Regions from separate parts of the Homo sapiens genome. Here all the other regions are linked to region 2. Evidence: fine-mapped expression QTL. A gene starts in region 2. Each other region holds a variant in brackets. All regions are shown on one strand. Distances are from middle to middle.

What was found.
Region 1: its variant is fine-mapped to the expression of PSEN2 in whole blood (TOPMed, PIP 0.95).
Region 3: its variant is fine-mapped to the expression of PSEN2 in whole blood (TOPMed, PIP 0.95).
Region 4: its variant is fine-mapped to the expression of PSEN2 in gastroesophageal junction (GTEx, PIP 0.92).

The regions. Positions count from the first base shown.
Region 1 is chr1:226,714,361-226,722,464 of GRCh38, reverse strand. The region is part of intron 2 of ITPKB (inositol-trisphosphate 3-kinase B); the gene reads left to right. Among named protein-coding and RNA genes, the nearest start is that of ITPKB, 21 kb to the left of the region's middle. RefSeq lists an enhancer at 4,274-4,773. The variant C/T (reference allele first, on the strand shown) is at 3,199.
Region 2 is chr1:226,866,230-226,874,333 of GRCh38, reverse strand. PSEN2 (presenilin 2) reads right to left here and starts at 3,718. Exons shown (of 13, transcript NM_000447.3): 1 at 3,685-3,718; 2 at 2,930-3,072. It overlaps LOC105373119 (a long non-coding RNA gene), which reads left to right and starts at 3,784. Exons shown (of 3, transcript XR_949226.4): 1 at 3,784-3,972. RefSeq lists silencers at 3,256-3,305, 3,316-3,915.
Region 3 is chr1:226,822,639-226,830,742 of GRCh38, reverse strand. It overlaps LOC124904530 (a long non-coding RNA gene), which reads right to left and starts at 3,043. Exons shown (of 2, transcript XR_007066909.1): 1 at 2,898-3,043. RefSeq lists enhancers at 2,361-2,655, 5,495-5,634. The variant G/T (reference allele first, on the strand shown) is at 3,454.
Region 4 is chr1:226,890,560-226,898,659 of GRCh38, reverse strand. PSEN2 (presenilin 2) reads right to left here. Exons shown (of 13, transcript NM_000447.3): 10 at 7,299-7,382; 11 at 6,816-6,917; 12 at 4,535-4,653; 13 at 2,562-3,236. The coding sequence ends at 3,081. Among named protein-coding and RNA genes, the nearest start is that of PSEN2, 24 kb to the right of the region's middle. RefSeq lists a silencer at 2,535-2,766. The variant C/T (reference allele first, on the strand shown) is at 4,511.

The sequences.
Region 1 (8,104 bases), 150 kb after region 2:
AGAGCCGAGCCGTCTCCCGCCTCTGCAGACTGCTGGTTAACCCCAAGAAGCTGAACGGAGCCCTGCAGGTTCTGGGTCCTTCCTGGCATCCTGTCTTTGGCATTTTGAACTGGCCTAGATTTTCTGGTCAGTCACCATTGGCCTCAAATACCACATTCCCAGGGGAAGGCAGGAGAGTCTCCTAGGAGTTGGAGTGGCAAGGAGCCCCAAGGATCCATGTTGTGCTTGAAGGGCGAGTGCCCTGAATGTACCAGGTGGCAGGTTGCTAGGAACCTTGAGCCTGGCCTCTGACTGTAGTTTGGGAACACTGACTTTGCAAAGAAGACTTGAGCAACTTCAGAAAATAGTTTATGGCTGGGTGCGGTGGCTCATGACTATAACCCCAGCACTTTGAGAGGCTGAGGTGGGTGGATTACCTGAGGTCAGGAGTTCGATTCCAGCCTGGCCAACATGGTGAAATCCCGTATCTACTAAAAATACAAAATCAGCTGGGTGTGGTGGTGCGCGCCTGTAATCCCAGCTAATCCTGAGGCTGAGGCAGGAGAATCGCTTGAACCCGGGAGGCGGGAGTTGCAATGAGCCCAGATTGTGCCACTGCACTCCAGCCTGGGCCACAAGAACAAAACTCCATCTCAAGAAAAAAAAAAAGAAAGAAAAGAAAAGAAAAAAAGGCCAGGTGCGGTGGCTCACGCCTGTAATCCCAGCACTTTGGGAGGCTGAGGCAGGTGGATCACCTGAGGTCAGGAGTTCCAGACCACCCTGACCAACATGGTGAAACCCCGTCTCTACTAAATACAAAATATTAGCCAGGCGTGGTGGCGTACGCCTGTAATCCCAGCTACTTGGGAGGCTGAGGCAGGAGAATTGCTTGAACCTGGGAGGCAGAGGTTGCAGTGAGCTGAGATTGCACCACTGCACTCCAGCCTGTGCAATAAGAGCGAAACCCCGTCTCAAAAAAAAAAGAAAATAGTTCAGTATGACCCCATGACCAGATGTCATAAAAGGGAACATAAGTTCCCCATAAAGGTATTTAAAAGTCAGTTGCCCAAAGGATAGGATGGAGGAGTCCTGGCTCATCAATATTTCTTTTATTTCTTTTTTTTTTTTTTTTTTTTTGAGACAGAGTTTTGTTCTTGTTGCCCAGGCTGGAGTGCAATGGCGAGATCTTGACTCACTGCAACCTCCGCCTCCTGGGTTCAAGCGATTCTCCTGCCTCAGCCTCCTGAGTAGCTGGGATTACAGGCATGTGCCACCACGCCTGGCTAATTTTGTATTTTTTTTTTAGTAGAGACGGGGTTTCTCCATGTTGGTCAGGTTGGGCTCGAACTCCCGACCTCAGGTGATCCACCCACCTCGGCCTCCCAAAGTGCTGGGATTATAGGCGTGAACCACTGCGCCCGGCCAATATTTTATTTTATTTTTTGAGATGGAGTCTTGATCTGTCGCCCAGGCTGGGGTGCACTGGCATGATCTCAGCTCATTGCAACCTCTGCTGCCCGGGTTCAAGCGATTCTTCTGCCTCAGCCTCCTGAGTAGCTGGGATTACAGACAGGTGCCACCATGCCTGGCTAATTTTGTGTTTTTAGTAGAGATGGGGTTTCAGCATCTTGGCCAGGCTGATCTTGAACCGCGTGATCTGCCCGTCTCGGCCTCCCAAAGTGCTGGGATTATAGGCATGAGCCACCACGCCCGGCCGCGCCCGGCCAATATTTCTTTTGAAATTCACTGGGAGTTATAATTTTACTACCAGTTCAATATGAATTAACAGGTGGTACGGCTGTAAAAAATACTAAACAGTCTTAGGATGCACAATAATAATAAAAATAATAGCAGCAATGATTTCAGAAGTGCCTATTATGTGCCAGGCATGTTCCGTCAAATACTTTATGTAATTTTTGCAGGGCATTCATTATTTTCCTCCTTTTAGAGATGAGGATGAGACATATAAATTGTTAGTCCCAAGCCCACAGCTGATCAATGGCAGGACTGGGATTTTAACTCATCTGAATCTCCCAAGTTCCTACCCTGTCCTCTCTGCCACCCATCAGCTGTCGCCTGGAGAACAGAGGAAGGTGGCTTTGAATTTAGTTCTGGGCCTTGTGCTTTAGGGGGACTGGGGACTAACTGAACTGAATGCAGAGGTGGATGGGTGGAGCAATGGGGCCTCTGAACCACAGCCCTGGGAGGTGGCTGAGGGAATTAGGATTGGTTGTTGCCGTGGAAATACTGGACCCCGGGGGAAAGAGAGTGTGTTCACATAGGTCCCCTGGAGTACCGTTTTAGTCTAGTTAAAAATTTTCTACTTGAGGAGGTGGAACTAAGAGTGGATTCTTTTCCTTATAAATGAATGGGCCTTTGTTTAAAAAAGGGATGTAATAGATGCAACTGCAGCAAAAGTGAGCTCCTGGAGCTGCCTCCTTAGGCTGATGAACTGGAAGAGAACTCTTAACCCTAAAGGGCAGGAAAAGGTTAAAGCTCCTCATTGCTGCAGACATAGCAGGGCAATAAGCCCCTGATAGCAGAAAAGGGGAGCACCCCAAGGCACTCACTCTGTAATCCGGGTCCCCAGGGACTCAGCCTGCCTCCCACAGGGAGAAGGGCAGATCTGCCCACGGGAAAGAGGGTTTCAGCAGATACAGAGCATGGATCTGCACGTGTCCAGATGCCTCAGGCCACCCAGAGAGAGCATCGTGGGCCTCTGTGCTGCGTGGGGCTTGCTAGGTACTGCTATACTGTGAAGCACCCAGGCAGCCTGGAGCTGCACGGCCTGCGCATGAGTCCAACAGGTACAAGCTGTTGTGGGCTTATAATGTCAGCACCTAAGCAGGAATTGAATGCAATCGAGTTGAGTTACCTGCCTCCAGGTAAATTAAGTTAAATCCTCATTTAAATTAGGAGACATGGGTGAGGGCCTAAAGGGGCCAGGACACAGAATGCCCAGGCTTTCAATAGGTGATATTCTCAATAGGTGATAGAGGTGAAGGGTGTGGCACCTCCCTGGAAAGGAGCACAGCTGCGGTCACCAAGTGAGGCTGTGGCCTCCATCGTAAAGGCCATGTGGGGCGGCAAGTGACCGACCACAGGGCACGGTAAGTCAGCAGGGAGCGACCACCAGGATTCCTTACCAAAGTTGGATTCCTCAGTCTCTGCTATGCTACCCTCAGAGATTCAGATTCAATTTTTTGTTTTGTTTTGTCC[C/T]GCTCTATTGCCCAGGCTGGAGGGCAGTGGTGTGATCTTGGCTCACTGGAACCTCTGCCTCCTGGGTTCAAGTGATTCTAGTGCCTCAGCCTCCCGAGTAGCTGGGATTACAGGCGTACGCCACCACAACTGGCTACTTTTTTTGTGTTTTTTAGTAGAGACGGGGTTTCACCATGTTGCCCAGGCTGATCTCAAACTCCTGGCCTCTAAGTGATCTGCCTGCCTCGGCCTCCCAAAGTGCTGAGATTACAGGCACGAGCCATCGTGCCGGCCCCCGATTCACTTTTTAGGAGGGGACATCTGTGTCATTTCCAGGTCTGGCTATTTTGAATAAAGCAGCTGTGAACATTCGTGTACACATTTTTGTGTGATGTAAGCCTTCATTTATTTGTGATAAATGCTCAGGAGTGCAGTTGCTGGGTCGTACAGTAGTTGCACATTCATTTCATATTTTACGAAACTGCCACACTGCTCTCCAGAGTGGCTTCACCATTTTACATCCCACAGCAGTGTATGAGTGCTGCAGCTTCTCCACATCCTTGCCAGCGTTTTATTTAGTAGCTAAGTAGCTACTTTTATTTTAGCCACTCTGGTAGGTATGCAGGTATGCAAGGCCATCTCATTGTAGGTTCTTTCTGTGTCTTGTTTTGTTTTGTTTTTTTTGAGACAGGGTCTTGTTCTGTAGCTTGCCCGGGTTGGGGTGCAGGGGGCAATCATGGCTCACTGCAGCCCTGACTTCCTAGATTCAAGGGATCCTCCCGCCTTAGCCTCCCAAGTAGCGATTTATAGGACAACAGGTATGCAGCACCATGCCCAGCTAATTTTAAAATTATTTTGTAGAGATGGGGTCTTGCTGTGTCGCCAAGGCTGGTCTCAAGTCTCCTGGCCTCCCAAAGTGCTGAGATTATGGGAGTGAGCCACCACGCCAGCCTTCATTGCAGTTTTAACTTGCTTTTCTCTTTTTTTTTTTTTTTTTGAGAAGTCTTGCTCTGTCGCTCAGGCTGGAGTGCAGTGGTGCGATCTTGGCTCACTGCAAGCTCCGCCTCCTGGTTTCAAGTGATTCTCCTGCCTCAGCCTCCCAAGTAGCTGGGACTACAGGTGCCCGCCACCACACCTGGCTAATTTTTGTATTTTTAGTAGAGACGAGGTTTCACTATGTTGGCCAGGCTGGTCTTGAATTTCTGACCTTGTGATCCGCCTGCCTCGGCCTCCCAAAGTGTTGGGGATTACAGGCGTGAGCTACCACGCCCGGCCAACTTGCTTTTCTCTAATGGCTGGCGATGTTAATTTTTTCACTGGCTTATTTACCGTCTCCTTCTGTGGAATGATCTGGCTTAGAAAATGAACAATTCCACAGAGGTGCTATAAAAACGGGCAGGGTGTCAAAAGCCTTGGCCTCCTGTTTGGGCTTTGCCTCTCAGGGCTTCAGGTGAAGGTGTTTGGTCATCTCTGAGGTCGCTTCCTGCTCCCAGTGTCCTCTGACTCCAGGATAGAGTCATGCCCCTTGGCGGGCAGCCCGGTGGGAGCTGTGGTGTGTAGGAGGCCCGGACGGCGGCCCCTGCCCACATGCCATCACCTCCCAGCTCCGTCTCCACAGGAGCTTACCCAGGCTGACTCACAGGTGCTGTATTATTTAAGGAAAGTTGTTTATTGATTGTTGGGGCCTGGAAATAAAAAGAAAAACAAAGAAGCAGATGCAGAGTGTCTCCTTGCCACCTCCCTCTGGGCGCCTCCGAGATGGTGGCTGAGGACCAGGCCCCACTCTGGGTGAGGCTTCCTTTCCGCCACTGGTGCTTCCCTTTGTCTCTCTGCAGCCTGGGCCTGTGCTTTGGGTTTAGTTTTGCAACATAGTCATGCTGAAGGTCCCAGAGATGCTTCCCCTTTTTATTGTAATTAAGCCAAAAAAGAAACATGGGGTATGTAATTTAGAACTACTCATAACCACAGAGATGGAAGGAATTTTCTCTTTAAAGCTAGCACTAGATTTCACCTTGCACCCTAGGCCACTTGCCCATGTCCTTGCCATCTTTTAACTCCTGTCTCAGGAGGGGGCAGCAGAAAGTAGTCTTGAGAGTTAATGGGATTGCTACTAGTTTGAGTACCTGCGGGAGGATTTGGTCTCCATCGAGAAACAGGGGAAGATGTCATCTGCTTAAGAAGGTATTTATGTTTGTTTTTCTGCCCGGTGATATACATGAACCCGGTAGTGTGTGAAATAAAGCATCTTAGTCCTCATTTCAGTGAATCAGAAGAAACTAAAAGGCATGGTTATTTCTCCCTCGGTATGATGAAGTCTATATAATATTTGCAAAATCTCCTTTGGTGAATTTGTATAAACAATCTATCACAAAGAAAGTATTGTTTTCTATATGGGCTTAAAGGATTTTTGGAAAATGGGCAGAGGATTTTCCCATGTATTCCCTGAGCCTGGGGAATGGAAATCATCTCATGGAGACAGATGACCACAGGCTTTCCACCCAGTCCCCGTGGCCCACTAGAATTGTCCAGCATGTTTCAGTGGTTATTTGATTGGGCTCAAGACCAAAGTTGGAACTGAATCAAATGATGGTTTGGTTCAGAATATTTTTCCGTTTTGGTACGTTTTGAAAACCTAGGTTTGATGCTGGTTGCAGTTGTTCAACAGATTTTTTAAAAAAAACTTTGAGTACAACACACACTGAGGCCTTTTGCGGGTGGAGGTAGGGAAAGCATCAGGATAAATAGCTAATGCATGTGGGACTTAATACCTAGGTGATGGGTTATAGGTGCAGCAAACCACCATGGCACTTGTTTACCTATGTAACAAAACTGCACATCCTGCATATTTATCCTAGAACTTCAAATAAAATAAAAACATTTTAAAAAGAAAATAAAAAGAGAAGATTTTTAGAAAAAAATAAAGAAAAAGATTTTAGAGCCACAGAATCTCTTTTTAGAGTATGGGAAGAACAGAAATTCTCTGGGTAGAGCAATTTTTGACAGAAGATGATTTGGGTTTATATGAGATATACAAAACTATTCTTACGCATTTTTACTGCATGCCACAACTTGGGATTTCTTAGTATTTTCCACATCAACCACACTACTTTAAGTCGTCTGGTTAGAAGTGTATGAACATGTTATAAGCTCAGAAAATGGCATGTAAAAGCAATAGAGGGCCAGGTGCGGTGGCTCACGCCTGTAGTGCCAGCACTTTGGGAGGCCGAGGTGGGCAGATTGCCTGAGGTCAGGAGTTTGAGACCAGCCTGGCCAACTTGGCAAAACCTCATCTCTACTAAAAATACAAAAATTAGCCGGGCATTATGACGGGCACCTGTAGTCCTAGCTACTCAGGAGGCTAAGGCAAGAGAATCACTTGAACCTGGGAGGCGGAGGTTTCAGTGAGCCGAGATCTTGTCACTGCACTCCAGTCTGGGCGACAGAGCGAGACTTCATCTCAAAAATAAATACATAAAAATAAAAGCAATAGAGTATTACAGTGTGAATCAGGAAATCTTGCACGTTTTGAAGGTTTCAAATGACTTGGTTTAATAAAGAAAGAAAACTTGTAATACCTAGAAAATTGACGTTGAATGGGAAAAATAAAACAAAATATTGCTATACAAAAACCTCTTGTTACATTCCTGACTCAATCTGATATTTGTGTTTGGTTTATTTGAATACATAAAATATATTATGGCCATTGGTGAGTAGTTAGTTCATTTTGATTCAAGTTACTTCTCCAGATGGCATCATTGTTATAAAATTTAATTTCCGTGAACTTACATTCTTCCAGGATGGTTGTGTGTGTTGATCTTCTGGTTTCTTAAATCTTCTGGGTCAGAGTTACTATACTTGCATTTGTGCTTCGCAATGAACTAGAATAAATACTTTCTATTAAAACCAGCAGAGGTTTTGCTAAAGAGAATGCACGCACAGGCCTTGTCTTTTTGGTGCAAGGTAGAGGGTTTTATCTACTACCTGCGACTAACTAGCTTTCAGAAAAGAGTGAACTAACGCTTTACCCATGGAGTTCACAAACGTTCATGGTGTACTGGCAGTAGGGATACATGTACAAGCATAGCTTAGTTCCTACCTTCTAGGGATTCGAAGTTTAGTAGAGGAGGCAGATTGTAATACCTAATACCTATTATGCTTTTATTATGTGGTAGTCATTGAAGGAGAAGTTAAGTGACATGTCTAAAATCATAGTAATAGAAGAGTCAGGCTATGAACCAAGATATTCTTAGAGTTTCTCATCGTTGGCATTTAGGGACAGATACTTTTCAGTTGTGTGGGGCTGCTCTGTGTACTGTAGGATGTTTAGCAGTATCTCTGGTCAGTAGCACCTCCCCCCATTTGTGACAACCAGATGTCTCCAGACATTGCCAAATGTCCCCCATGGGGAGAATCGCCCCTGATTGAAAAGCACTGCTCTAGAGCCTGCTCTTGTGCCCACCACTCTGTACTGTCTTCCCAGATGAGTGAATGCTATGGGAGAGAATAAGCATGTTTACAGTGTGAAGTCCCAATTCCTGCTGACAGCAGAGGACAGATGCCAACACTACCTAGGGTGGTGGAGAAGAGAAATATTCTCAGATATGGTGCCATTGGAGTTGAATTTTGAAGGGATTCACGTAGTCAGAGAAAAAGGAAGACTATCTGGAGTAAAGGGATGTGTGTGCACAAAAGCATGGCAGCAGGAGGAAGCAGGGCAACCTTGAGGATGACAGGTAGTTTTCTATAGACCCTTTAATTTACTCTTCAGTGCTGTTCTCTTGTTTCCTCTGTTCAAACAGCAAGCCAGGGTTACAGCAGCTCTTCATGTCATTCTTACTTCAAATCAAAGGTGTTGTGTTAGTCAGGATGAGCTAGGTTATGTTGCAGTAACAAACAGCCCCAGAATTGGCAGCAGAAAACAAGAAAG
Region 2 (8,104 bases):
GCCAAAAGCCACAGTTACAACTCAAGTCTCCAAACTGCCCATCAAGGAGCTCTTCTCAGCCCAGTCAGCACTTGTGAGGGTCACGTACCCAGTGGCCAGGGTTTGGTCACACAGGCAGGCCCACCACACACTACACAGGCTTTCTGGGAGCACACTCACAAGACACATGCCTTCACCACGGGCAGGTATGTGTCAAGAAATGCTCCCTAATCACTCACTCACCAGCTCATCTGTCACCTCAAAACTCTCAAGTCTCTCTCCTGCCCCCAGGGCTCACTCTGCTCTCCCTCTGCTACTTGCCCAGGTAGGTTTGGCTCCATGGTGGGGAGTGCCCACATATGGGCATGGGGAGGACAGAGGGCACTGCTTCTCTGGGGCAAAAGGGAGGGTGGGAAAGTGTCCTGCTGTGGGACTGGTAGGATAAATAATTCAAATGCTCTACACAGCCATCAAATCTGCTTTTCCATGAGTACTCAATAAAAGGAAAATTCTGAAGGCATAACAGAAAAAACAGGATACACAAACTTCACCTACGGTTCCCTCCCTCTATTGTTTTAATAGATAAATATGCATATGTGAACAGTGTGGAAGGAAATGCATGTTAAGAGTGGTTATCTCAGCCCAGCGCAATGGCTTATGCTTGTAATACCAGCATTTTGGGAGGCCAAGGTTGGCGGATCACCTGAGGTCAGGAGTTTGAGACCAGCCTGGCCAACATGGTGAAACCCCGCCTCTAATAAAAATACAAAAATTAGCTGGGAGTGGTGGCAGGCACCTGTAATCCCAGCTACCCAGGAGGCTGAGGCAGGAGAGTCGCTAGAACCCGGCAAGCAGAGGTTGCAGTTAGCTGAGATCATACCATCGCACTCCAGCCTGGGCAACAAGAGTGAAACTCCATCTCAAAAAAAATTTTTTTTCCCTAATTTTCTAGAATAAACATGAATTACTTTTATTTTAAAAAGAGTCCAGTAAGTTTCTGGTTAAGGTACAGCAGAATGGTGGACACCCTTTGAATTGTTCTTCCCGTTCTAGAATTTTCACAAAGATGAACAAGCAGCCCATTCTCCCACTCAGTGAAGAGGCTCTCAAGAAATGATCTCCCTCACTGACATCTGATCTTTCCTGAGGACTGATGTGAAACCATTTTTTTTTTTTTGAGATGGAGTTTTGCTCTTGTTGCCCAGGCTGGAGTGCCATGGCCCGATCTCGGCTCACTGCAACCTCCGCCTCCTGGGTTCAAGCGATTCTCCTGCCTCAGCCTCCTGAGTAGCTGGGATTACAGGCATGTGCCACCACGCCCGGCTAATTTTGTATTTTTAGTAAAGATGGGGTTTCTCCATGTTGGTCAGGCTGGTCTCAAACTTCCGACCTCAGGTGATCCACCCACCTCGGCCTCCCAAAGTGCTGGGATTACAGACATGAGCCACAGCACCCAGCCTGAAATCATTCTTTTCTCCAGACATTAACATGATGGTCATCCCATCTCCAGGATTGGAGCCCAGTGGAAAATGTTCCTCTCGGGGCCTCTCAGCCTCACCCCCGCCTTTCCGCAGCTGTGGCAGCTGGGAATAGAACAGGTGGGAATACTTGCAGAAATATTTGCTGTCTTATCAGTCCCCAACTAAACAGTGTCCGAAAGTCAAAGCAACAGCTGAAAACCCGCCAGAGATGTTTTCATTAGACACACTGCATGTGACCTACACACACTGCTTTGGTTTCTTTAAAAAAATTTTGTTTGTTTGTCAGGAAGTTGCTCATGGGGACTCCACAAAACTTTCCCAGCAGTAGTGGAGAGACACGGGTAGGAGTTGAATACAGGAACCTCCTGCGCAAAAACTCAAGAGATAAAGACAGTGTAGCCAGCTATGTTCAAATCCTGGTGCTTAAAGCACTGAAGCCACATAACTGGACTAGCTGCTTAACTCCCTGAACTTGTTTCCTCTTCTGTAAAAAGGTAATAATAAACTATTTCAGTGTCATTGAAATTCTTAAGATCTTAAATTCTAATATTCTGTACAAGATAGCTTTTTATTATGACCAACTCATAAGCGAGATATATGTCATTATTAACATCGATAACAGAGAAAGGCCAAAGTAGGCAAGAGGCAAACCCCCCTTGGGGGGACGGTGAGCAGCTACGGAGGGGAGACAGGTGTGACATTATGCACCACAGCTCCAGGCACCCCAGCAGCAGCCCCTAGCCCTTGCTCCTCCTCCTCCTTGCTGCTCTTTCAAATAGACAGGAACAAGCCACTCACTCCCCACATGTGAACATGCTGGACTCAAGACTTGGCACATGGGCACTTCAACACCAAAGGGTACAGAGTTTTCCCCAAAAACCTGATACATCCATCCCACTTCAAAGCAACATGCCCCCAAGCCCTCACTCCAGTCTCTGCCCTGGAACCCAAGGCTCAACGTGGGCGTCGTGAGGACGCAGCTCTGAGGTGGGGCCAAGAACCAGGCCCCTTCTGCACCTGCGCCAGTCACCGGCTGCCCACAACCACATTCAGGAGAGAAGAACCTGAGGCTCACACACCTGAAGCAGCTTATCCCGAGACTCCAATTACCGCCAAAGGTCTTGGCTGAAGGCCTTGGAGGCTCAGGTGTCTGCAGAATTGGCTACAGAGGCATCAGAGGCTTCCTTACTGGAAGCTGGGGTCGGTCCTAATCAAGTTACTTCGTAGACAGCCTTGGCAACCCCAGGCTGTCGCTTCTGAGTTAAGTTAGTCTACAATCGTCTCTATGGAATGCTCTCAGGTTCTCCATTTGTAAATAGGGATGCAGTTACTTCACTCAACACCGTTCATACCTTTCAAAGGGAATACTTATTAAGGCAATAAACAGGGGTGAGGTCTGCTCGGAGGGATGGACAGCAGATCTAGAAGCCAGGACACTGGGGTCGAAGCCTGGCTCTGCTATATCGTACCTGGGCGACCTTGGGAAAAGTCACTTTAGCTCTGTGGCCTCAGTTTCTTCATCAGTAAAATTCAGAGGGGGGACTAGCTTCTGTCTCAGGTTCCTTCAGCTCCAAAAGCTTGCTTCTGGCTGTCTCCTCACTGCTGGAAATGCCTGATAAAACAGCCAAACACCGCTGCTAACAGAAACCGGCTCTAGGCTTGAGCCTGCGGCCCTGCCCCTCACGTGCGGGCAGAGCCCCCGCGCGCCTCCTTCCCGGGGAAAGCATGCCCAGGACCCGGTGCTAGAGGCCGAATGGACTCGGCGCAACGGAGGTCTCCGGCGAGAGAGAAGAAGAACAAAACGCCCCCGCCTGCTACACGCCTCAGAGACCCACGTGCACCGCTCCTTTAAATGCACCGGCCCTTTAACCGCTCGCGCCGCGCCCACCCCCAGCCGGGGCTCGGCGGCAGGCGGGCGCAGGGAAGTGGGGACGCAGTGAGGCCGAAGGCCTGAGGGCCGCTCCCCGCGATCCTTCCACGACCCAGTTCCGGGCCGGCCCAGCCGCCGCCTGCCGGGCACTCTCCTCTCTCCGCCCCCGCGCTGGCCGCAGAGGCCAGGAGCGCTGCGCACGCAGGGGCCGCAGACCCACAGCCGGGGAAGGGACCGTGGCCAGAGGCGTGCGGAGGGCAGGGCAGGGCCCTCAGGGCGCAGCCCCACCCCGGGCCCTCAGCGCCGCAGGCGACAGGGCCCTGGCCTGGGCACCCCCCGGCACCGCCCGCTCACCTGCTCTGCCGCCGCGCTCCAGCGGAGTTTACGCAGCTGGCTGAGCGCCCGGCCGGACCCGGCGCCGGCCCAGGCCCCGCCCCACGCCCGCCCAGGCCACGCCCGGTGGGCGACGCCGCGTTCCCTCGTCCACTGGGGCCCCACCTGGAGTCCCGGGCGCGCGGGGAGGGTGGCCTTCACGCCGCGTGGATGACAGGGTCATCCCGACGTCGGAACTAAGCGACGACCTTAGAAGGAGTGGAGGCCGGGCCTGTCATCTTCCTGCGGGCCTGGCAGCAGCGTGGGGCGGTAGGACATAGGCTTCGAGGACACTCTTTCTTGTAGTTTTGGGTCCACATCCCCTCCTCCTCCCGGTTGTTCTCACATTAAAGGAGCACTAATGGCCCAATGTGAGCTAACACCATGAGAATGTTCCTGGTCTGTTCCCTAGGGCGCTTCAGAGCCACCAGGAGCTCTGCATAAAATTGAACAGGAATAAATTGCTGCCTGACCTGAGAATTGGCCTAGGGGGTTGTGGTTCCAGGATTTGGGGTCTGTGGGGTAGGTTGAGATTGTCAATAATTTGGCGTTGTCTGAGTAGTTTTACTTTTTTTTTTTTAACTTAAGGTGAAATTCACATAACATAAAATTTACCATTTTAAAGTGGGCATTTCAGTGGCATTTAGTGAATTCACAATGCTGTGCAACCACCACCTCTGTCTAGTTCCAAAACATTTTCCTCATTCCGAAAGAAAAACCCCATACCCATTGAGAAGTTTCTTCCCAATGCCCTCTTCCCCCCCAGCCCCTGGCAATTACCAGTCTACTTCTGTCTCTATATTTACTTACTTTAGATACTTCATATAAACGGAATCACAGTGTGTGGACTTTTGTGTCTTTCACTTAGCATGTTTTCGAGGTTCATCCTCAGGTAGCATGTAACAGACTTTATTCCTTTTTATGACTGAATAGTGTTTGTGTGTGTATATGTATATGTGTGTGCGTGTGTGTGTGTGTATCATGTATGCCACAGTTTATTCATCTATGGACATTGGGGCTGTTTGCATCTTTTGGCTTTGTGAATAATGCTACCATGAACATGCATGTACATGTATTTGTTTGAGAGCCCATTTTTATTTGGGGAGGGTACATACATAGGGGTTGAATTGTTGGATCGCATGGTAATTCAATTTTTTTTTTTTTTTGAGACAGAGCCTTGCTCTGTTGCCCAGCCTAGAGTGCAGTGGCCGCAATCTTGGCTCACTGCAACCTCTGCCTCCCAGGTTCGAGCAATTATCTTGCCTCGGCCTCCTGAGTAGCTGGAGTTACAGGTGTGTGCCACCACATCTGGCTAATTTTTGTATTTTTAGTAGAGATGGGGTTTCCCCATGTTGGCCAGGCTGGTCTTGATCCTGAACTCAAGTTATCTGCCTGCCTTGGCCTCCCACAGTGCTGGATTATAGGCATGAGCCACCGTGCCCAGCCTTCAGTGTTTAACTATTTGGGGAACCCCAAGTGGTTTCCACGATGGCTGAACCATTTTATATTCCTACCAGCAATGTACAGGATCCCAATTTCTCCACATCCTCACCAACACTTGTTATTTTCCATTTTATTGTTATCCTAGTAGGTGTGCAGCGGTACCTCATTCTGGTTTTGGTTTACATTTTCCTAATAACTAATGCTATTAAGCATTCTCCTTTTCATGTGTTTGTTGGCCATCTGTATATCTTCTTTGGAGACATGCCTATTCAAGTCCTTTGCCCATTTTAAAATTGGGTTGTCTTTTTGTTGTTGGGTTGTAAGAGTTCTTTATATATTCTGGACACTAGACCCTTATCAGATATATGCTTTGCAAATATTTCTCTCCCATTCTGTAATTGTCTTTTTCACTTTCTGATGTCCTTTCATGCACATAAAACTTTAATTTTGATGAACTTCAGCTTAACTGTTTTTTCTTTTGTTGTTTGTGCATTTGGTGTCCTGTGTGAGATATCATTGTCAAATCCAAGGTTGTGAAGATTTACTCCTGTGTTTTCTTCTAAGAGTTTTATAGTTTTAGCTCCTATATTTAGGTTGTTGATCCATTTTAAGATAATTTTTGTATGTAGTGTGAGGTTAGGGTCCAAGTTCATTGTTTTGCATGTGGACTTCTAGTTGTCCCAGCACCATTCGTTGAAGAGATTGTCCTTTTCCTATTGAATTGTCTTGGCTTCTTGTCAAAAATCAATTGGCCATAGATGGATGGGGAAAACCAAATATTTTCAAAGAGCTGTTTAAATGCAGATTAACCCTGGATGGAACTGGGGCAGGCCAGCATTTTGGCTAAGAAAATAATGGTCCAAATAATGATCTTTGATAAATTTGAGAAATTAATTACATTTAACAGAATTATAAAAATAATCGATTCTTGGAAAAGGAAGGACACCTGAAGGTCACAAAGTCCAACTCTAACTGATGCATATGAGCCCTTGCTACAGAATTCCTGGGAAATAACTCCCCAACCTGGTTTGTTGTTGTTGTTGTTTTGAAACAGGGTCTTGCTTTTTCGCCCAGGCTGGAGTGCAGTGGCACGATCTCAGATCACTGCAACCTCTGCCTCCCAAGTTCAAGTGATTCTCTTGCCTCAGCCTCCCAAGTTAGCTGGAATTACAGGTATGTGCCACCCTGCCCAGCTAATTTTTGTAATTTTAGTAGAGAGGGGGTTTTTGCCATGTTGACCAGGGTGGTCTCGAATTCCTGACCTGAAGTGACCCTCCCGCTTCGGTCTCCTGAAGTGCTGGGATTAGATTACAGGCATGAGCCACCGCGCCCATCCCTGATTGGTTGTTGTTGTGTTGTTGTTATTTAGCTTTCAGTGTTGCACTTGATAGGCTGAATTTCCCCTAATGTGAAGAGGCTGCATATGCCCTAAGGTGAAGCATAATGACTCAATAAATGAGTTAGGAAGTTGTGATATAATAAAAATAAATATTTGGTCTTTATCCCCGTTCCTGGCACAAGCTTCTAAAACCTTTGGAATCTCAGGTGTGATGAATGTTGTTGGTATGCTAATGAAATGACTGGTGGCTGGGGACCCCTGACTAGCTTCAGGATAGGGGCTGGTGGCCAGAAAGACTAAGGCATGATCTAAACAAACAGAAGACTGCAGCCCTTAATAAGCATTAACAGGATCTGATTTCCAGAGTTACCACATTATAATATTCAAAATGCCCAGGTTTTTTTTTCTTTCAATCAGCTTTTTCAGGTTGAAGTGCCCAGTTTTTGTTTTTTTTTTTTTTTTTGAGACAGAGACTCCCACTGTCACCAGGGCTGGAGTGCAGTGGCGCGATCTCAGCAGCCTGCAACCTCCACCTCCCAGGTTCAAGCGATTCTCCTGCCTCAGCCTTCCGAGTTGCTGGGATTACAGGCACCCACCACCACACCCAGCTAATTTTTTGTATTTTTAGTAGAGACAGGGTTTCATTATGTTGGCCAGGATGGTCTCGAATGCCTGACCTTGTGACCCACCCACCTCGGCATCCCAAAGTGCTGGGATTACAGGCGTGAGCCACCATGCCAGGCCCGAAGTGCCCAGTTTTTAACCAAAAAGTAAATAAATAAATAAAATAGGAAGCATACCAAGAAAAAAGAAAAGTACAACCCATTCACAGGAAAAAGAAATTGATAGAAACCATCCCTGGGGAGGCCTAGACATTGAACTTGCTAGACAAAGACTTTTATTTAAATGTTTAAAAGTTTACTTAAACGTTTATTTAAATGGTCTTAAATATGCTTAACTAACTAAAGGAAACCATGGACAAAGAACTAAAGGAAGCCAGGTAAACAATAAATGTATAAACAGAATATCAGCAAAGAGACAAATTATGAAAAATAAACCAAATCAAAATTCTGGAGCTGAAAAGTACAATAGCTGAAATGAAAATTTTGAAAAGATGAACAACACTGACAAATCTTTAGCTAGACTGAGAAATAAAGAGTAAAGATGCAAATAACTAAAATCAGACATGAAAGTAGGGGCATCACTATGGACCTTACAGGAAAAAAAAAAAAAAGCATTTTAAGTGAATACTGTGAACAACTGTACACAAATGACCAAAACTGACTCAGGAAGAAATAAATCTGAACAAGCTAGGAAAAGTAAAGAGATTGAATCCAATAAGAGGTTGAATCAGTAAGGCCAGGCACGATGGCTCAAGCCTGTAATCCCAGCACTTTGGGAGGCTGAGACGGGCAGATCACGAGGTCAGGAGATTGAGACCAGCAGATCACGAGGTCAGGAGATTGAGACCATCCTGGCTAACACGGTGAAACCCCATCTCTACTAAAAAAAAAAAAAAAAAAGCCGGGTGTGGTGGCAGGCGCCTGTAGTCCCAGCTACTCAGGAGGCTGAGTCGGGAGAATGGCATGAACCCGGGAGGCGGAGCTTGCAGTGAGCCGA
Region 3 (8,104 bases), 44 kb after region 2:
TGCCCGGCTAATTTTTGTATTTTGAGTAGAGACGGGCTTTCACCATGTTAGGCAGGCTGGTCTTGAACTCCTGACCTCATGATCCATTCACCTTGGCCTCCCAAAGTGTTGGGATTACAGATGTGAGTCACCGTGCCAGCAGAATTTCCATCTTTTTTTTTTTTTTGAGACAGAGTTTTGCTCTTGTCGCCCAGGCTGGAGTGCAATGGCATGATCTCGGCTCACCGTAACCTCCGCCTCCCAGATTCAAGCGATTCTCCTGCCTCAGCCTCCTGAGTAGCTGGGATTACAGGCGCCGCCACCATGCCCAGCTAAATTTTTGTATTTTTAGTAGAGACAAGGTTTCACTATGTTGGCCAGGCTGGTCTCGAACTCCTGACCTCAGGGATCCACCCACCTCAGCCTCCCAAAGTGCTGGGATTACAGGCATGAGCCACCATGCCCGGCTCAATTTCCATCCTTTTAAAGGGCAAATCATATTCCTTTGTGGGTATACACCACATTTTGGTGATCTGTTGTTCTGTTGAGGGACATTTGTGTTGCCCCCACCTTTTGGCTATTCGGAATGATGCTGCTATGAACAAAGGTGTGCAGCTATCTCTTTGAGACTGTGCTTTCAATTTTTGTAGTTACACACTCAGAAGTGGAATTGGGGCCGGGCGCAGTGGCTCACGCCTGTAATCCCAGTGCTTTGGGAGGCCGAGGCAGGCGGATCACATGAGGTCAGGAGTTTGAGACCAGCCTTGCCAACATGGTGAAACCCCGTCTCTACTAAAATACAAAAATTAGCCGGGCGTGGTGGCAGGTGCCTGTAATCCCAGCTACTCAGGAGGCTGAAGCAGGGGAATCGTTTGAACCTGGTAGGCAGAGGTTGCAGTGAGCCAAGATTGTGCCACTGCACTCCAGCCTGGGCAACAAAGCGAGACTCCGTCTCAAAAAAAAAAAAAAAAGAAAAAGAAGTGGAATTGCCGAATTGAATGGTCATTCCATTTTTAATTTTTTGAGGAACTGACATACTGCTTTCCACAGCAGCTGTACCATTCTACGTTTCCATTAACAGAGGACAAGAGTTCCAATTTCTCCATCCTCACCAACACTTATTTTCTTTCTTTCTTTAGTTTTTTAATAGTCACCATCCGCATGGGTGTGAGGTGGTATACACTTTTGCTTTTTAGCTTTTATTAAAAGCCTGGTGTCTTTCGGCCACAATCCTTTTCTTCAAAGCCTAACTGGGCACTTCAGTGTTCAGCTGTATATTTCCTTTCTCGAAATATGTACAGTAGGAGTATGTTTTCTCTCTGACTTAGGGAAAACTGAGTTGATGTCTTCAGGTGGGGGAACAATTAGCCAGCAGAGACATCTGCCCCCTCAGAGAGTGCCTGGAATGATTCAGCCAAATTTTCTGACTTGCAAGGGGTCCTTTTCTGCTATTAAGGCTCCTGAGCACCCATCCCAAAGTTGTATGTTCCCCCAGAGAACAGCTTTCCCAGATGGAATCTTGGTGCAGCTGTCGGAGGTGCTTGGGTACCCTTCCAGGTTATATGTTATGTGCATGTGAATTTAGTGATAGGAACCTTGGTCTCACTGAGAAGTAATGAAAAGGGTCTAAAGTCTGTGATGCTAGGCCAGGGGCAGTGGCTCACGCCTGTAATCTCAGCACTTTGGAAGGCCAAGGAGGGTGGATCACCTGAGGTCAAGAGTTTGAGACCAGCCTGGCCAACATGGTGAAATCCTATCTCTAATAAAAATACAAAAATTAGCCGGGCATGGTGGTGCGTGCCTGTAATCCCAGCTACTGGGGAGGCTGAGGCAGGAGAATCACTTGAACCCAGTAGGCAGAGGTTGCAGTGAGCTGAGATCACGCCATTGCACTCCAGCCTGGGCGACAGAGCAAGACCCCATCTCAGAAAATAAATAAATAAGTAAATAAGTAAAGAAATAAAAGTCGGCCAGGCGCGGTGGCTGACGCCTGTAATCTCAGCACTTTGGGAGGCCGAGGCGGGTGGATCACGAGGTCAGGAATTCAAGAGCAGCCTGGCCAAGATGGTGAAACTCCGTCTCTACAAAAAATACAAAAATTAGCTGGGCATGGTGGCAGGCGCCTGTAATTCCAGCTACTCAGGAGGCTGAGGCAGAGAATTGCTTGAACCCGGGAGGCGGAGGTTGCAGTGAGCTGAGATCGTGCCACTGCACTCCAGACTGGGTGGCAGATCAAGACTCTGTCTCAAAAATAAATAAATAAATAAATATAAAAATCTGTGGTTATAGAAGGTAATCATTATTACAACATTATACATTACAGCAATGTATCCTACAATTACGTTGAAGTTCGTAAAACACAAGTGGCACAATTTTTCCTTTTGGAGCCTCAGTCAGGGGTCTTGAGGCGGTGTCCCCAGGGGCACACCCTTTGGTTTCCGCCTCGGAGTGCTCAGCCCCAGCCCAGTGCCTCTGACCGGAGACCAGGGCCGCGAAGCAGCTTGTCTCCCGCTAGAGGGCGCTGGGCTCCTTGGTTCAGATCGTCTTCGGGACTCCAGGGAGGCCTCTGGCTCTCTTCCGGTTTGACTGGGCCTCCCGGGCTCTATTTTTAGGCCTCTGTGTTGGCCTTGGGCGTTCAGACCTGGAGACCCCGCTGAATCAGGGAATAGCGTAGTCTCTCACAGGATATGAGTGGTGACCCCTCAGGAGTCAGGGTCCCTGTGAGGGTGGGGTCACCGTTCACAGAGCACCCAAGGACCACGCAGGGGAGGTGGAGGGGGGGAAGAAGGCCTTTTTCTCACGTTTCGAGATTCGTTCTCACATTCGTTCTCAGACTTTGTTCTCACATTCTTTTTCAAAAGGAAAATAAAATTTTAAAAGAAAAATGCTAGGGACCAAAGAAAAACGTATTCATCTACCTTGACTTCTCCTATGGTACTTCCTGAAAAGTTGAAAATTGTGTGGGAGGCGCAGGAAGCCATCCCTTCTGCTTCCTCACTTGCTGGTGCGACCTCCTCGCAGCGTTTGGGCTCTGCAAGCTTTCAGCGGCACCAGTTCTGAGAGCAGGCGCCCAGGCCCCACCCTCAGCGCTTCCCACTCCATAGAGCCGGGTGTGGCCCAAGAATCTGCCTTTTTTGGCAAACACCTCTTTGGAGTCTCAGGCGGGTAATCCTCAAACCACACTTTGAGGCACTTTCCACGGGGCTCATGTCCTCTGATGCTGTTTGCTTACTTCTTACAGTTCTCACAGAAATTTTACACTCCCAGTAGGAAGCCTCCATGCAGGAATTCCACACGTTTTAGTATTTTAGACTACCGGTTCCTTCTCCTCTGTGCGAGTCCCCAGGCAGGCCCTATCCTGAGTTCTGAAACGTGGTGGTGTCTTCAGCAACCCCTCAGTTCTAACCCCTGCTTCCTCAGTTCTAACCCCTGCTCCCCATTCCCGACCCTCAGCCTCCTACTTCTGATGCTCCG[G/T]GGCTGCCCTGAGCCTGGCAGCCTTCTAAATTTCTTTCATTTATTGCACTGAGCTCTTGGAAGAAATCTTCCCTCCTGCGATAGAAGCCCTTAAGTAAGAGTCTGGCTTTCCGTCTCTTTCCCTAGTATCAGGGTCTCACTCAACTCCAACTCCAGACTCACAAACGCACACATGCTGTGTAGCTGCAACAACTGTGACTGTTCCCCAGGCATACTCCGGCAGCTAGACAACAGCTAATGTTCAGGTTTGTGCAGTGCGTCCTGCTTTGATGGTGCTGGGTAAAAGCTGAGGTCACCGGGCCTGGCGGCTCATGCCTGTAAATCCCAGCATTTTGGGAGCCCGAGGCGGGAGGATCGCTTGAGCCCAGGAGTATGAGACCAGCCTGAGCAACATAGGGAGACCCCATCTCTACAAAATAAATAAATAATGTAGCTACGCATGGTGGTGCGGGCCTGCAGATCCAGCTATTCAGGAGGCTGAGCTGGGAGAATTGCTTGAGCCCAGGAGGTTGAGGCTGCAGTGAGATGTGATTGCACCACTGCACTCCAGCCTGGGCGACAGAGGGAAACCCTGTGTCAAAAAAAAAGCTGAGGTCAACGGATTTAGGAATCAGTCATTACCCCACCCATGTCTGAGACAGCTGGGAATAGAACATATTGAGCAAAAATCCACTTTGGAGGCCGGGCGCAGTGTCTCACGCCTGTAATCCCAGCACTTTGGGAGGGTGAGGCGGGTGGATCACGAGGTCAGGAGTTCAAGACCAGCCTGGCCAAGATGGTGAAACCCTGTCTCTACTAAAAATACAAAAATTAGCCAGGCACGGTGGCGGGCGCCTGTAATCCCAGCTACTTGGGAGACTGAGGCAGGAGAATCACTTGAACCCGGGAGGCGGAAGTTGCAGTGAGCCGAGACCGCACCATTGCACTCCAGCCTCGGCGACAGAGCGAGACTCCATCTCAAAACAACAACAACAACAACCACAACAAAATCCACTTTGGAGAATTTGATGCAGAGATGACAGGTAATTGGGAGAGGGGCTCCTGGCACCTCTGAGACTGACACAGATGGTATCTTTAAGACACACAGCTGGACAAACTACTGCCTCTTCAGCGTGTATGAGAATGCCGGCAGAAGCAGACATCTAATTTCCTCCACTTCCCAGCTTTGATCACCTTCTTGCTCAATTTGCATGCTAATTACTAAGTCTCTGGTTAGCAGCCCCTAGCTATCTGCCCTAGGTCTGCTGTCAAGCTCTCACATCAATTCTGTCACCAGTTTGACTCAACTATCAGGGTCAGCCTCTTGGAAGGGCTACTCCCGAGCCTACAGTCTGAGAGGCCACCCCACCCGCCCCCATTCAAGTATCAACTCCCCAGTGCCAATGGCAGCCATCAAAGAGAGCTGTCTGTCAGCACAGAGAGGTCTGGGGTTGTAGGAAGGGGGCTCACAAGTTGGCCTGGCCCTAAAGAAGGTAGGTACCAGGGCCCAGGTTTCAGACCTTGGTCTTGCATGCCGAGAAACTCTATTTTGTCCATGGCTCTGTGGTGCGGGGACTCAAGAAGCTCACAAGAGAATGATGCATAAAGCCATCACTTAAAATGAGAAATAAGATCAGATATTTGTGTCCGCATGACCAACCAAACAGGCAGGGGCAGGGCGCCGGGGGCTTTCCTTGGTGGTCATGGGTCAGAACAAGTATGGCAAGAGGTAGATTCCAGTGGAAATGGCACGGCTCTCTGCCTGCATTCAGTCAGCCAATACTCAGCTGGAATCTTCCCCATGGCTACACCAGTTATTAATGACTGGCATCTGTTCAAATTTGTCAGTGTCTTTGCCACATCAGACCAACTGTTGTAATATCAGTTACATATTATTGCCATCACCTTTAACAATAGGTGCACATACACCTGCTGGAAGAGTTGGTTTTTAGTAGGCTGACAGCATTGTCTCTCCCCTAGACTGACTACACAATTCCTTAGGTGAAGTCCTGATTAGATAAGTAAGCAACAAGAGGAAGGGGCCCCAGGTGGGGAAGAACAATGAACAATCATTCTGAGAAACACAAATCAGAATCACAAACAATGGCCTGTTCTGGGGGCACAATGTCCTCATTCAGCACATAGCCCCCTCCAGCACGGCCCTGTAAAATTTCCCTCCAGGCCCCCACCTCTTGGCAGACAGACGCTTCTCTGCTGTGCTGCCCATTGCAACGTTGCAAGGTATTTTCATACTTCCTCTTATAATCCGCCTTTCTTTACCTACAACTGTCTTGGTAAATTCCTTTACCACCTGCGACCATGGCCCCAGCTAGTCGTACCCGTGCCATATTACACTTTAAGAGGTTCTATTCATTGGTTAGCTACCAGCACCTAGCACATAGTAGATGCTCTATGGCACAAATCAGCGTTCATGATGTTGAGCTCAACCGACTGCTAATGCCTGGATGGACTCTGCCAGTTTGCCTCCATGCTTCCCTTTTCCGAGCCTCCATGGTTGACTACTCTCAAAACTGTGACATTCTTTCCTTGCATCTGCCAGACTCAGGTGACCTTGCTGGCTCAACAATGAATATTTTACTGAGCACTTATTATATGCCAGGCTTTGGGGATATGGCAGTGGATAAAATAGTCACAGTTCCTGCCTGCTAAAGTCTCACATCTGAGGATGGAGTTAGGCATTAAACACAGGAGATGAGGAATGTGGATGGAGAAGGATCCAGGCTGTGGGAGCACGTGGGAGACGGATGGGGTAGTCTCCTGGAGGAAGTGATGTTTCAGCTGAAGTATCAGTGAGTTGGGGGAAGGGAAAGGGGACAGGGGAGGTGAGAAGATGAGTAATTCGGGCACAGCAAACAGCCTTTACAAAGACTCACATATGGGAAAGAGTAAGTTGGGTTGGCACAGCAGGAACGGAAGAGGTGGGCCAGAGATGAGATGAGGATTGGGAGCATGGTGGCCAGGGGAACGCACCTTGTAGACCTCTAACTCTGGGCAGCAAAATTGACCAGGGGCTCCTGCCACTCACACCAAAGCCAGGCTTCCCCTAGGGACAGAAATCCTTTGTCGCTAGCTTTGGCTCAAGGATTCCATGGTGGTTTGCTGAACTTTCCTTAGACTTCAGGGTCGGCAGACTACGTCTACCCTCCACTCTCACCTTCCCCTTCCTGTGGGGCCAGACTCACATCACACTGGATGGGTCTCCCAGACTCCTGCAGCTCCCTTCCACATTTCTGTCACAATTTCCCCAGAAAAAACCCTTGCATGCAGGCGTGGTGGCACACACCTGTAGTCCCAGCTACTGAGGAGGCTAAGGCAGGAGAATCACTTGAACCCAGGAGGCAGAGGTTGCAGTGAGCCGAGATTGCGCCACTGTACTCTGTGTCTGCTTCTGGGAGGATCTGAACTAACACAGGAGGCTTTACCCTAATGGTACTGTAAAGCCATTGAAGAGCTTTAAATGAGGAAGTGACATGATTAGATTAAAGCTCAGTCTGGCTGCTGGGTAGAGAATTTGACAGAGGGGACCAAAAGTAGGGGCGGGAAGGCCCATTTGGAGGCTGTTACAGTGATCCAGGTGAGACGGCTTGGAGTAGGGTGTGGGAGAGGAGATTTTAAGCTGTGGTTGAATATGGGAGATACTTAGGAAGAAAAGATGGCACTTGGTGTTGGATTGAATGTGGAGTGTGAGGGAGGAATTGAGGATGATTCTAGGATCCTGGCTCATGGTACAAGAGGGAAAAAGCTAGAGTTTGGGAGTTGTATCCAGCTCTGCTTAGGGAAAAATGCAGAATCTGGCCTGTAGAAAGGTGAGTTCTGTTGTCAGTCAGGATGGCTCACTGTCTTCCCTGCTACCTGGGTGAAACACCCCTTGGCAACACCCACCGCCAAGTTCATGTTCATGTTCATGTTCACCGAACAGCATTCTGATTGTTCATTTGGCCACACAGGTGTTCAAACACCAGGCAGACCCTTCTGGAAAGGAATAGTGCCTGATAAAAAGGAATAAATGAATTCATTGGAATTCCAGTTTATCCGACAATGTCGCCGGTATCTAGTGGTTCCAAGCTAACATCTCCAAGTCTGAGATACTGGCAAGGATGAAGCCCAGACTCTGGTAAACTCACCAGAGGAACTCTGGTCTCAGGGCCTTTGTGTAGACAGCCAGCTGGCCTTCCTTAGAGACACACCAGGGCAGGCTGAATAATGACCCCGAATATGTCCACACCCTGAATCTCTGGAACCTGTGACCATGTTACCATATAGGGGACTGTGCAGGTGTGATTGAGTCAAAGACCTTGAGGTGAGGGGGCTCATCCTGAATTATCTGGGTGGGGCCAATGTAATCTCAAGGGTCCTTATAAGAGGGAGGCAGGAGGATCTGAGAGAGTAATAGGAGATGTGATGACTGAAACAAGAGGGGCCATGCAAGGAAGGGGCCAGGAGCCAAGGAATGCAGAAGGCCCCAAGGAGATGAAAAGACAAGGAAACATTCTCCTAGAACCTCCAGAAGGAATGCCAGCTTGCCCACACCTTGGATTTGGCCTAGCAAAACTGATTTTAAAATTCTGACCTCCAGAACTACAAGAGAATAAATTTGTGCTGTTTTAAGCTACTGAGTTTGTGATAAGTTGTTACATCAGCAGTAGGAAGC
Region 4 (8,100 bases), 24 kb before region 2:
CCTGGGCGACAGCGCGAGACTCTGTCTAAAAAAATTAATAATAATGAACAGAGAAGGAACCTTGTACAGCCAATACACATATGAAAAGATAATTATAAAACCTAAAGGAAATGACACCCATCCAATCAGACAAGATGAAAAGTCTGATGACACCAAGTATTATAGAGTTGGGGAACTCTCAGATTGCGGATGGAAGGATAAACAGACACATACTTGGAGGGTAATTGGGAATGTCCAGTCAATTGGGGGAATTCCAATACTTCCTCAAATCCACACAATGTGATGGGATGCTCACTGCAGCACAGCTGTAATACAGAAACACTGCAAAACCCCTACAGGTCGATCAATAGCATATAAACAGTAGAACTCATACAATGGAACACTATACAATAGTTAAAATAACTGGGCTGGGCACGGTGGCTCACGCCTGTAATCCCAGCACTTTTGGAGGCCAAGGTGCGTGGATCACCTGCAGTCAGGAGTTTGAGACCAGCCTGGCTAACGTGGTGAAACCCCGTCTCTACTAAAATACAAAATTAGCCAGGCATGGTGGCGGGCAACTGTAATCCCAGCTACTCAGGAAATTGAGACAGGAGAATTGCTTGAACCCAGGAGGCAGAGGTTGCAGTGAGCCAACATCACGCCATTGCACTCTAGCCTGGGTGACAAGAGCAAAACTCCATCTCAAAAAATAAATAAAATAAATGAACTGGAGCTACATTTATACATGCCTCCAGAATGCAATATTTTAAAAAATTATCAAATATGTACAGTATGATACCATTTCTGTAAAGTTAAGAAAACATGCCAACATACAAAACAAAACTAACCATAGATGAGAAGGGCAGAAATCGACTTCAGGACAGGAGGCGGAGGCAACAGGACTGGGGCCACATACAAACAGGACTTCAGAACGTGGGTTTTATTTCTAAAGACAAATCTGGAGCAAATATGGAAAGATATTAGTTGACGGGTTACACGGGGGAGATACAGGTGTTTGAACACCAGTACCCTGCTCTTGTTCGGCATGTTCGAATGCTGTCTTTTACAAATTCTCTCATTTTTCTTCTTTGCCATTTGTGTTCTGGGTTCATTTGTCTCCCTGCTCTCTGGGGACCTCCAAGTAGCATCTCCTCCAGTGTCTTTGTTCTCTCCAATGCTCTTCCCTCGTCTTCTCACATGTCCTTGTTTTCTCAGTCTTAACACTTCACCCTAACCATCACCAGGCCCCTTCATTTCTTCCTCCCTCGCTGTCTACTTAAGGGCCCCCAATTTCTGCCTTTACCTCTGAATGTGGTCTCCACCCAGCAACCCTTGGCCAGGCCTTTGAAAGACCTCAAGCTTAATGATTCAAAATATATGTCCAATCCCATCTTTGGAAACCCCACCCTAAAACTGCTCTTCTGAAGATAAACACTGCCATAATTGCCAAATTGAATAAGCTTTTCAGTTTTTCTTTCCCCTTAACCTCTTGCGAGTTGTCACCATCAGGGACCATCCCTGTCTGCTTTACCCGCTCCCCGCTGTGGCTTCCATGACGGCAATGCCCCCCATCCCAGGTCTCTGACCTGCACTACTAATCAGTGGGATTCCACCCGCCAGTGTTCGGCCTCCTCTGTCCTTCCTTCTTAGGGCACCACATTTTCCTCTGCCCTTCCTCAAACAGCCTGGGGGAAAGCAAGCTCCTGTCAAATGTCAAGATACACAATTCTCATTCCTCTCATAATAAAGATGCATTGTCCCGGCACTCATGTTATTCCTGGAACAGGGAGACAGGGGTACCAGTTTGAACCCCAGGGCACACTTGCGTCTTCTCAGCTGTCTGATATACCTAACACCTGCTTGATCTCGGCTCATTGCAGCCTCAGCCTCCTGGGCTTAAGTGATCCTCCCACCTCAGCCTCCAGAGTAGCTGAGACTACAGATGCATGCCACCATGCTTGGCTAATTTTTAAATTTTTTTTTGTACAAAGTCTCACTATGTTGCCCCGGCTGGTCTCAAACTCCTGGGCTCAAGTGATCCTTCCGACTCGACCTCCCGAAGTATTGGGATTACAGGTGTGAGCCACTGTGCTCAGGAAGAGGCACTTCTGAGATTCTCTTTGCAACCCATGATTGATGTACAGAGAAGGCAAAGCCAAACTGTCCACTCTCCCACCACAGTGCCCAGGGCCAAAGCCAGAGAAGGAAAGGAGAGTGGTTTCTGAGCTCAGGCCCTCACAGGCTTCTGCAGAGGGTGAACACTTGCTGAAGGAACCACTGGATGTTTTGGCAACCACCTGGCAGTGTCTGTGCCACCGTGCACAACTGAGTCCAGGGACCTGCTCAGCATCCACAGCCTTACAGCTCAGGGCTGGCAGATGTCAGGCCACCCTGCTCTCCTAACTCCTTTGCTTAGGAAACTTTCTAGTTAAAGAAATGTGTGCAGAGAGGCGAGATCATTAAAAGTTCCTTCAAACAGGGCAAACTGCCTCCATCCTGGGCTCACAGCACAAGTTATCCCAGGGGTGCCCAAGATGCAGGGAGAGGGGTCAACATTTACAACGGACCAAACTCCAAGATTCTAACAGGACTCATCTATTTATTGATATTACTATTAAGCCACTTCCCAGCAGTGTGACTGCCGTAACAAGAACAGGACTCAGTTTCTAAAGGCAATAAAATAACAAGGACATCATGGACAAAGCATTGGGAACACTCCTCGTAGGGAACTGGCTTTTCCTCTCCAGCCAGAGCACCCAGGTGCCAGGGGCCACTCCCGAGCACACTCTTTGCGCATCTCAGCCCTCATGCCGGATGCTCTTCTCCCCGCCCTAATCTGACCTTCTCAGTTCATCTGGATAAACCTGCTGTGCTTCCTGTCCGTGAAGCGAGGCGCTCCCCAAAGCGGGAGCCAAAGTCTGGTGATGAAACAGCTGGCACCAAAGAGCTGGTTCTGCCTCCTCCTCACCAAGTAAACACGTACTTTATTTTTTAAGGAAAGAAAAGTCTTAAAAATATATGGCACTAGAGTGTAAAACTATACAACTGCATCCAATGAAAATTCCCTGCAGCTTGCAGCCTGTGGCACACCATGTCCCTCAGATGTAGAGCTGATGGGAGGCCAGGGTGTCCATGAACGGCCGCACCAGGTTGTCCGTGGAGAAGTAAAAGATGAGCCCGAACGTGATGGAGATGGGGAGGGCGGGCAGCGCCTTCTTGAACACAGCAAGCAGCAGGAGGGTCAGACACAAGCCCTGCAGGACATGGAGGGGAGGGTGAGCGTGGTGATCCCTGGTGTGGACAGGAGCTGTGAGTCATGGTCTAGTCCCTGGGCACAGGAGCTTGTTCGAGGACCAGTCGGATAACGGCGCTAGACACCCCATTATCTTCCCTGGTCCTGCAACAGCTCTTGAGGTGTTAAGGGCAGAAGTTCTCACCCCCATTAGATCACCTCACCTGTTAGTGAGTGAACCAGAAGGCAGGCCTCCTGACTCCTGGAGCAGTGCTGTGCCCCGAGGCCGTGCTGCCTCCCCTGTCTGGCTGGAGTGGTCACATGGGATGGTAAGATGCCCTCAGGGAACATGTATTTATATGAGAGCTAGGTGGGCTCAACTGAAATGGCAGTAAGGTTCTCAGCAGCTGGCACCAAGGGAATCAGAGCCGCCAGGCAACCTGCCCCTGGGAAGCAGGTGTGGGGGCTGCCCATCCTCCCCTGACCCAGCTGATGCAGGCAGTGGTCCAGGTGAGCACAGGGAACCAGGGTGCCTTCTATATCTTTGGGGCCAGCAGGGCTCAGGTAAGGCAGTCTGGTGGTGGAGGAGCCTGGGTCCACCATCCCATCCCTGATATACTTGTGGGCAAAAAGAAAACCTTCTGGACACTGGAGCATCAACCTTAATCATGCCATGCCCAGGGTTTTCACTAAGGGGCAGATGCCAAGCGCACGGCTCAGACGCTCCTCCTCCTCTAACGTGACAGCGAAATCTCTGAGATGAAGTCACGGCAGGACGTCTCCCCATTATGTGTATCTGGTCACGTTAACTGACTACAGGGCCTCCACATTTCACTGCTGTGGTTCACAGTAACGGGGCCACCCCTAGTGCCCCAGATTCAGACCCTGTGGTGTCCCAATGGCATGGAGGAGGGGGAAAACATGGTCCTCACTAGCTTTGCGCCCATGGGCAAGGCCCTTAAGCAATTTTCTTTTCTGCAAATCTGATGTCATCACAACCACCTCGAGGGTATCATCACTGCGCAAAGCTGTCAGCTGGGTCCTCGGCCTGGAGGCTGTGTGCTCAGCCACGCTGGGGCCGGTACACTCCTCACCCTCCCCTGCACTGTCCTCCACAGGCTGGAGCCCACCTAGGGGCGAGCACACCTCCTGTGAGCCTTGGTCTCAAGCTGACCCTTCCAGCCCCGCTCCCTGCTCTTGTCCCTCAGAGGGAAGAGAAGAAATGAAAAATCCCTAGGGATCCTGAGACCTGCCCCCACCACAATGAGGACCCTGGGGGCCCCCACCACGAGGCAG[C/T]TGGACGCATCCCCAGCCACTCACAATGAGGATGGCCACGAAGCAGGCCAGCGTGGTATTCCAGTCCCCGCTGCCCGTGGCAGCCGCCTTGCCCACCAGCACACTGTAGAAGATGAAGTCCCCGAGGCCAAGCTTCACGCCCCCTGTGTGAGGAGAGACAGTAACCCGTACTGAAGAGGCGTGCACAGAATGGAAAAAGAAGAGAAACTCTGGCCCAGAAGGCCCAGCTGCTCTTGCCCAGCCCAGCCCACCCCACCTGGCCTCTAGAAGCTAAGATGTGGACTGGGGACATGGACAGCTGCCTCCCCAAATCAGTGGCCAGTGGGAAAGCAGGGGACACCTGTGGACTGGGTGACTTACAACCTGGGCAGAGAAAAGCGGGCAGTTCTGAAACTCAGGTAAAACCAGTGTTGGGCACTTAGAGAGTAAAGAAAACAACAAATAGAAATGCAAGGCCTTGGGCTGGGCACTGCTGTACAATTTAGTATGAAGTCTGAATCACAGATTTTTAGGGAATTTAATTTCAGTACATTCAAAAGCCCATATAACACCAAGACAGAGGTCCTCTGAAGAACCTTTCACCTTACAACAGGTAAATATAACTGGGAATTAGTCTACCCATTACTGATCAGGAAATTAGAGCTTCCAAAATGCTCTCGTTTGTTTTCTTTAGTGCAATGGTCCCTGACACTTGTTTATAGGATAACTTTGCTCACTGTAGACAATAAAAATGGTTATGCAATAAACACAAACCATGGAGGCCCACCTCCCCTGCCCTTCCAGCCCTGCAGGTGTCCCTCCTGCTCCTGGCCCCAGCTGTCCTCCTTCCCCCACCAGGTGTGATCCATCAGCATTACTTCTTCACTGTCTCTTCATTTGGCTGGTCCTGAGTTGCATCTCTTATAATAAAACTAATTTTGGCCGGGTGCTGTGGCTCAGACCTATAATCCCAGTACTTTGGAAGGCCAAGGCAGGTGGATCACTTGAGCCCAGGAGTTCGAAACCAGCCCGGGCAACAAGTCAAAACCTTGTCTCTACTAAAAATATAAATGAGCCAGGTGTGGTAGCACGTGCCTGTAATCCCAGCTACTCAGGAGGCCAAGGTGGGAGGATCACTTGAGCCCAGGAAGTCAAGGTTGCAGTGAGCCACAATCGTGCTACTGCACTCCAGCCTGGGCAACAGAGCGAGACCCTGTCTCCAAAACAAAACGACAACAAAAAACAAACTGCAATTTTAAGTGTAGTGCTTTCCTGAGTTCTGTGAGTCATTCTAGCAAGTTATTGAACCTAAGGGGGTCATGGGAGCCCTAAATTTGCAGCCGGTCAGAAGCACAAGTGGCATCTAGACCCTCTAGAGCTTGTGGCTGGTGTCTGGAGGGAGGCCAGTCCTGCGGGCCCCGTGGGATCTGTGCTAACTCCTGGTCTGCAGCACACCAGTTGGCCTTGGAATAAATACCTCCCCCAAGCCTGCCTGGAGGGTGCGCACCTGCTCCTCCTTCCAGACCCACCGCAGAGTGATCTTTCCCTAGCTTGCCCCTCCCGTGTCACTGGAGTCCTGTATGCCAAGCCACTGTCACCAGGCTGCTCCCGTAAGGCACCTCTCAAGGCAGGGGCTGTTACGACAGTGCAGCATCTCCCTGCTCCAGGGTGCTGCCTGGCACGCAGCAGTGGGCTGGCATTGGGTGTTAGGCAGGCACCGTGTACTGACGCCAGGATGAACTCCTATCTTCGCATGTCTCCAGGCCTGTTTGCAAGGCTCTCCCACACTTCTGCTCTCTGCATCCCGCCCCGGCTTCCTCTGATTCCTGAGTCTGTCTGTCAGGAAATGCTCCCCACCCTGTGCTCCTCTCCTCTAGTGACTGCTGTGACTCAACCTTCAGAGCTCAGCTCAGCAGTTACTTCCTCAGCTGACTTTCTCTCACCCCTGCCAACCAGGTCAAGAAGCCCCGTGGCATGCTCTCCTGCCGCCCCTCCCCAACCCCATGGCCCCCTTCATAGTCCTTGGCTTCTCAGTCTATGTGATTACTGCCCGTGTCTCCTTAGCCTGTGGGTCCCACCAGGGCTGGGCCTCACCCAGCACAGCACGGGCACGTGGCCCATACTCAATACATGCCGGACAACTACATGGGGCCTGCTGAGAAGACCCCAGCGCTGCAGGCATCTTCTACTTTCACAGAGATGCCTCTGATGGGAAAAGGGGCCCCTCCCCTCATGCCCTCCTCCACCCAGGCTGCAGGGAGCCTCCACCCTCTGTCTCCGCTCCCGCCGTAGGCTGAAGCAGGCCGTGTGAACATGGGCACCTTACTTTCCTCCTCTTCCTCCAGCTCCTCCCCTGGGTAGCCAGTCAAGGGAGGCTCAAAGACTTCGGGGTATGAAGGCTCCCCAAAACTGTCATAGGAGTCTTCTTCTGGGTGTCCAGGAAGAGAAGATGTCCGTCATCACCGTGAGGAGGGGACAACAAGAGAGAGAAACAACAGCTGGTCAGAGTGTTACCAGGGAACAAAGCTCCAAGAAGGGGTCCCCCTGAGCACCAGCACCTGACACCAGGGCTTCCCCCACTCCACCCACCCACGCCCAGCAGAACGATGCAACAGAGGCTGGCAGAGGACCGAGGGTCCAACACTTGCTGAATCTTCAAGCCGCATGTGTCCGGCTGGTTTTCAACGGACCTTTCCCTCTGCCCCTCCTGAACTCATGCCTCTCAGGGAAGCCAGGCCGAGCAGAGCTGGGTGCAGGTAGGGAGCTGCCCCCCAGTGATGAGAGGCTGTTAGCTCCCCAAGATACTCACCCATCTCCGGGTCGTAGGGGAGCTGGAGGGCACCCTGAGAGGAGGGGTCCAGCTTCGCCATGCCAACCGTCCACACCATGGCAGCTGGGGGAGGAGAAAAGGTTCACATCTCAGGCGGTGCTAACAGTGGCTGCCTGCAGGGCCTGGGGGAGGTGGCCAGTCTGCGTCCCAGAAAGCCTGCACAGGACCCTCCATCCTGCAGGTATCTGCTCATGCTCCATTGTTAGGAGGCCGTTGTGGGAGGGGTCCAGAGTCACTCTCTCTTGCATTTGTCTATTCTGTTACTGTTTGTCTCCCCTCCTAAAGCATAAGAACCAGGTCTATCAGAGCCAAGACCTCACAGTTCACGGGTGAATCCCCCGAGCCCTGGGACACTCATGACAGTCCTGGCACTACCTTTCCATACATGGTCTCCGCTCATCCTCGGAATGCGCCTGGAATGTGCTTTCCCGTGGGGCCACGCTGCAGGCGATTCTCCTCTACGGGCTCGAATCCTCAACTGCATGAAGGTACCTAGAACTCTGTAGCTGTTCCATAAACTCTTTCCCAGGCCACCTTGCAGACGCCAGAGCTCCAGAAATTCAGGCTATTTAAGCCCCGCCATCAACAGACCGAGGGCATCACAATCACAGGGCCGTGAGCTCCATGAGGCCTGGGACCCTGTGGTCTTCTTTCCTGCTGGGTCCCCCAATGCCTAGCACAGTGCCTGTCACAAAATGGGGACTTGATGTGCCTTTGTTGACTGCATGTGTAAGTCCAAATCTCTACACATTGACCCCGAGGCCAGGGGCCATCCCGTGTG